Linked DNA regions of Homo sapiens: region 2 is linked to region 1. Evidence: fine-mapped expression QTL. Tissue or cell type: whole blood. Region 1 holds a variant in brackets; the other region holds the start of a gene. All regions are shown on one strand. Distances are from middle to middle.

Region 1 (2,758 bases):
GGTGAATTCATTTGGGCAAGTTCAGAGCTGGAGGTTCCTGCAGGATATCCAAAAGGGGATGCCCAGCAAGCAGTTGTACTCATGGGTGGAGATTCCAGGAAGGAATTCTGGGCACATAGATGGTAAATTCCCGAACAAGTAATTTTCATGGCATGCTTCATCTTTTTACATATTTTTCATCTGCTTTTTGTCTCTCAGCAGTTGCAGAAATGAATCCTGCTACTGTAGTCAACAGATGGTTTCTCTTCTAATGCTGACCAACACTTAAAAAAAATAAATGTTTTGCTTATTGACTTGAACTTCACCTTCAATCTGTAAACATCAAATTCTATCAGCGCAAACTCTGAGACTGCCAAATTTTTAGAGTCTGTGAAAATTTTAGGGCTGATTCAATCCAGACTCCTTCATTATACAAATAGGAAATGGTGGCCATTACGGTTGTGAGTTTACAAGATTACATAGCTGGACAGTTGCAGAACTGGCCCTAGAATTCAGGACTTGGTATTTACTGAGCAGTCTTATTTCCACTACTTTTTACTGCTTCCTCCTACTACTGAAGAGCTGTTGGCTTCAGAGTTCCTCTTACTAATGATTTGTGTCTTACGGGACATGAAATAGTGCCTGCCCTGTTTGGTCCCAGAGCCCTGAGTGCTGGGAATGTGTTTTTATAGAAAATGTATTCTGAAGATAAGAAATAGCCAAAGGAAAATTTGAATTTTTTATAAAAGTGTCTGTCTGTCTGTCTGTCTATCTATCTATCTATCTATCTATCTATCTATCTATCTATCTATCTATCTATCTATCTATCTATTGAGACAGTCTCACTTTGTCACCCAGGCTGGAGTGCAGTGGTGCGATCTTGGCTCACTGCAGCCTCCGCCTCCCTGATTCTCTTGCCTTAGCCTCCCAAGTAGCTGGGATTACAGGCATGCACCACCAGGCCCAGCTAATTTTTGCATTTTTAGCAGAGATGGGGATTCACCATATTGCCTAGGCTTGTCTCAAACTGATGGCCTCAATGATCTGCCTGCCTCAGCCTCCCAGAGTGCTGGGATTACAGGCATGAGCCACCACACGTGGCCTTATGAAAGCACTTTAAGACTTTTCATGGTTCATGGACGTTTTTGGTTCTGTAATGAACAAGTAACTATGACTATGAATATAGACATAAAATTTTTACATACAATTACAGGAACTCTGTAGATTCCAAGTTAAAAAGACTCCTGTTATATAATTTGGGCTATTTTCAAGGACATGTGAATCAGTTTTACTAGAAATAAGTTCAAGAATTTCCTCATTCTGGGCTGGGCACAGTGGATCATGCCTGTAATTCTAGCACTTTGGGAGGTGAAGGCAGGAGGATTGCTTGAGCCCAGGGGTTCAAGACCAGCCTGGGCAACATGGCGAAACCCTGTCTCTACAAAAATTACAAAACTTCGCCGTGCAAGGTGGCACAAGCCTGTAATCCCAGTTATTTGGGAGGCTAAGGTGGGATGATCACCTGAGCCCTGGAGGTCGAGGCTGAAATAAGCCGAGATTGCACCACTGCTTTCCAGCCTGGGTGACCCTGTCTCAAAAAAAAAAAAAAAAAAAAAAAA[G/AAG]AATTCCCTCATTCTTTTGAGTGAATACCAGTAAAGTTTAAGGAATTCAGTAGTAGTTCAGCTAACTTCTCATATGCCTCTTAAACTCTCGAATGTCCATGTTTGCTGATCCAGTAGTCACTATTGACTAATGTAATATTCATCTTGGTGACACACTTTGTAGACGTTTTTAAAGGCAGTTGGGTGGTACTAAATTAAGAGAGTCAGAAATCTATTAATGTCTTAGTAGAAATTTTATATCCTCTTTAAATTCTTAAAAGTCTAGTTAGATGTTATTTGAGCCCTGACGATAAAGGACTAACCTTTCCTAATCAAAGTCAAGGCAAAGAGAAGCCTGTTTTATTGGTGCTAACCTATTTTTGATGTATCTAATTAAAAATAAAAGGGAGGAGGAGGAAATAGAAATCATCATTCTCACTTTCAGCCACCTCAAATGCAAAAAAACACATACAGAGAGCATATGCAGGATTATAATGCAGTGACCAGAGCAGGGGGAAGGCCTTAACCTCAGTCCCCTTTAGTTTCTGTTAAGTTGATGGTAGAAACCTCGCCTCCTTCTGGCACCAGGTTCTTCCCAGCCACTGCCTGTACTTTAACTCATTCGAGGTTCACATCCCTTCATTTATTTTGCTCTGGGAAATTTCTCCCAGCTATGGGCCCTCCTGCTCAGGAGGCACTTTTAGCTGACCAAGATAACACTTTTCCTCATTTGCAAGTTTCTTTAAAATCCTGTTTCCTCTATGGAGCTTCTGGTAACAAATTGGCACCTGTTTTGTTAACAACCCTTTTTCCTATCACTTTCTAAAATTATGTTTTTTGTGTGCCCTCCCTTCTCCCTAGAACAAAAGCCTCATAAGGGCAGGGATCTTGCCAGTCTCATTCACAGCTATATTCCTACTACCCACAGCAGTGCCCAGTGCCAGGTACTGACAAGTGCTCAGGGAATCTTTGAATGAATCAGTGGGTGAAAATTTTTCCCACAAACTCCACAAGGACAGGGACCATGTCTGTTTTACCTACAGCTTATGGCAACACACACAGATGTTTATTCAAGGATGGTGTATAGCCTCCTAACAGCACTGCCTCGTGGTTCCTCTCCACTTTAGAACCTTCTGTTGTTTACACAGAAGCCACACAGAACTTCCAGTGCTCTAAGTAAT
Region 2 (2,758 bases), 50 kb before region 1:
TACCTAGCAGTGAAATTGCTGGATTATAAGGTAATTGTATGTTTAACTTTTTAGGAACTGACAAACTTTTTCACAGAGCTACATCATTTTACATTCCCACCAGTATCCAGCATTAGTTTTAAACATGGCAGGCTTTTAAAATAAATCAAGCCTAAACTGGTAATATGTAGCAAAACTAAGAGTCCTGCAACAGTTTGCTGACAAGTTGCTGATATCAACACTCTTAACATATCATCTCCTAGACTAATGCAGTGTTTCTCAACATAGACAGCTGAGACTCCCATAGTAATCATCTATGGAGCTTGTTACATCAGAAGGGCCCTGGATCCCACCTTGTATATGTTGATTCAGCATCTCTGGAAATGGAGCCCCCAAATCAACATTACAAATGCTAAAGCATGAGACTCACCAACCCTAGATTGCTGAGTTCTTGAAGGTAGGGGAAATATCTTAGTCATCATTGTGTCCCTCAAGGCCAAACATACAACAGATATTTAACAAGTGTATACTTAAATTAACTAATACTGTAATCTAAAGCCTACCTGTTTAGTTGTTAAGTACCATATTCAATAAAATTAAACTCAATCACTAGACAACTAGGGAATCTGTAATTAAGGTGTGTAGCATACCTTTCATTTGCATAAAACACATGTCTTACCAGCTGTGTTCTATCATGCCCTTTGATGTTGCTAAGGATCTTTACACTATATGTAATTTTCAGCTCAGAACATCACGCTTTGAGGCAGGGTTAAAAAAAAAAAAAGGATATGGACTTGGAATTAGAAGAACTGTCTCTGTGTGACCTCTAAGACCAATATCTAGGAATCAAGTTTATAACTTGGAAACATTGAAAACATTTTGTAATTCTACCAACTTCATTGTTTGGCTGAAGCACAAATGATACTATGTGTAACAAAGCCTGCTGTAGAAACGTGGTCTCACAAAAAACAAACAAAAAAAACCATGTTTCCAAGTCTTCCTAAAGACTTTAAGTATCCAGCTGTGTAAGTTTAGTGCTCTAAGGTATACGCAAATAAGCAGATGAGAATGGAAACATATCGCAGAAAATTATTAAGTGCATGCACAACATTTATTCATTCATTCACTCATTCATTCATCACGCACATCCAGCAACTATATCAATATCCTGCAGGGCACTGTGTGGAAAACAGTGGTTAAATAAATTCAAATCTGCCCTCAGGGGATTTAGTTCCTTTTAGTATATTAATAACTAGCAAGCTGCCCCTCTTCATGTCAAAGCTTTACGTCAACAAAATAAGCGGTAGGGGATCACCTTAAACGTCACGGGTGCTGTCTCTTTAAAACGTAATAGAACTCTGATCGCATCGATCACAGGCTCACAACGCCCTTCCATTCATCGCTCTTATTCCAGTCCTGGTTACTACCCCACTTCCTGACATCAAACCAGGGAGAACGCGAGTGTTAGTTAACATGGCTTGGTGTGTGGCCACAGCTGACCCGGCGCATACCTCCCGTCCTCTCTTTACAGGGCTGGCGGTGTCTCGGGGCTCGGCTGGCCATGCCTGGAGCGCGGGGTTTGACTGGGCCGCCGTTGTTGTAGTGACCGGGAGGCGCTGCCGCTCTGGGCAGACGGTTCCGGGAGCCGCACGGTCCCCTCTCCTTCCCCATCCTCTCCCCTCCCCTCTCCGGGTTCCCCCACCCACAGGAGCCTTGGGCCGACCACTCCCCCGATGGCCTCAGCCACGGTAAGGACGGGTTGGAGGTGGGGGGGGTCCCTCCCTGGAGCCTGTCCCGCGGGCTGCGGGGCCAGGTCCGGGCCGAAGCCGCACCTGGAGGGAGATGGAGGCAGGTGTCCGTAGCCGGGTCCTGAGCCCCTCGTCCCGGGGCGTCCGTATCTCACTCTCTGCCATCGGGGCGGACGGAGTGCGGAACCCAGACCCGGCTCCCGGACGCTCTTCCCCGAGTTCCGGAGCTCCGGACTGAGCTGGGCGGCCCCACGGCCCCCAGAATTCTCGGAGGGTTTCCGTGGAGCGCCTGCGTCAGAATCACCTAGGAAGTATTAAAAAAAAAAAAAGTACCAAAGCCGAGGCGCATCCTCGCACCTGCCTGCCTTGGGCCAGCGGGCGGGGCCCGGGAACGTGCATTTCAAAGGGGCCGCGGTTCCTGCGATGCGCTGGACTCTGGGAAGCGCGAACAGAGCGTTTTGCGGGCTCTGCGGGGAGAGCTGGCGCCGGCGTCTCCCTGTAGCAGGACTGGGCGCCGCGCCCGTGGGTGGGCTGCTGCCCGGCCCCGCCGCCCAGCCAAGCCGCCGCCTGGGTGGCCATTCCCAAGCCGGACTCCGGGGAAGTGGCAGCGTGGATCCCAGCCGCCAGAATTCGAGGTCTGCGGCGGCTTTCAAAACTTGACAACTTTCCTTTCCAGGAGGACCCCGTTCTGGAGCGTTATTTCAAAGGCCACAAAGCTGCGATCACCTCCTTGGACCTCAGCCCCAACGGCAAGCAACTTGGTAAGTCTTATTCTTGTTTTGCTTTTGTAATGAGACTAAACTCCATGGGCCGGAAACCTTTCCTCCTGTCCGGGCAGGGTCCCTAGGAGAACGGCTAAGGGCCTGTATGAGGGTTGAGAGCACCCGGAGACGAGGGCCCAGCGCGGCGGGGCGCAGCTAGGGCCCCCTCTGCCATCCCGGCCCCCAGCCCCCGGCCCGGCCAAGAGCCTCCTATCCAGCGGTCTGGGCCTGGCGGACGACTTTCGCAAACTAACCACCAGGAGGAGTGAG

Evidence for each region. PIP is the estimated chance that this variant, and not a neighbour inherited with it, causes the effect.
Region 2: it holds the start of POC1B, and the variant in region 1 is fine-mapped to the expression of POC1B in whole blood (INTERVAL, PIP above 0.99).

Annotation. Positions count from the first base shown.
Region 1 is chr12:89,474,751-89,477,508 of GRCh38, reverse strand. All of the region lies in intron 4 of POC1B-DUSP6 (POC1B-DUSP6 readthrough), which reads left to right. The region is part of intron 4 of POC1B (POC1 centriolar protein B); the gene reads left to right. Among named protein-coding and RNA genes, the nearest start is that of GALNT4, 49 kb to the left of the region's middle. The variant G/AAG (reference allele first, on the strand shown) is at 1,599.
Region 2 is chr12:89,524,850-89,527,607 of GRCh38, reverse strand. POC1B (POC1 centriolar protein B) reads left to right here and starts at 1,561. Exons shown (of 12, transcript NM_172240.3): 1 at 1,561-1,727; 2 at 2,404-2,488. The coding sequence starts at 1,713. POC1B-DUSP6 (POC1B-DUSP6 readthrough) reads left to right here and starts at 1,561. Exons shown (of 11, transcript NR_189589.1): 1 at 1,561-1,727; 2 at 2,404-2,488. It overlaps POC1B-GALNT4 (POC1B-GALNT4 readthrough), which reads left to right and starts at 1,346. Exons shown (of 3, transcript NM_001199782.1): 1 at 1,346-1,727; 2 at 2,404-2,488. The coding sequence starts at 1,453. POC1B-AS1 (POC1B antisense RNA 1) reads right to left here and starts at 2,038. Exons shown (of 2, transcript NR_146294.1): 1 at 1,812-2,038. RefSeq lists silencers at 1,606-1,865, 2,416-2,758.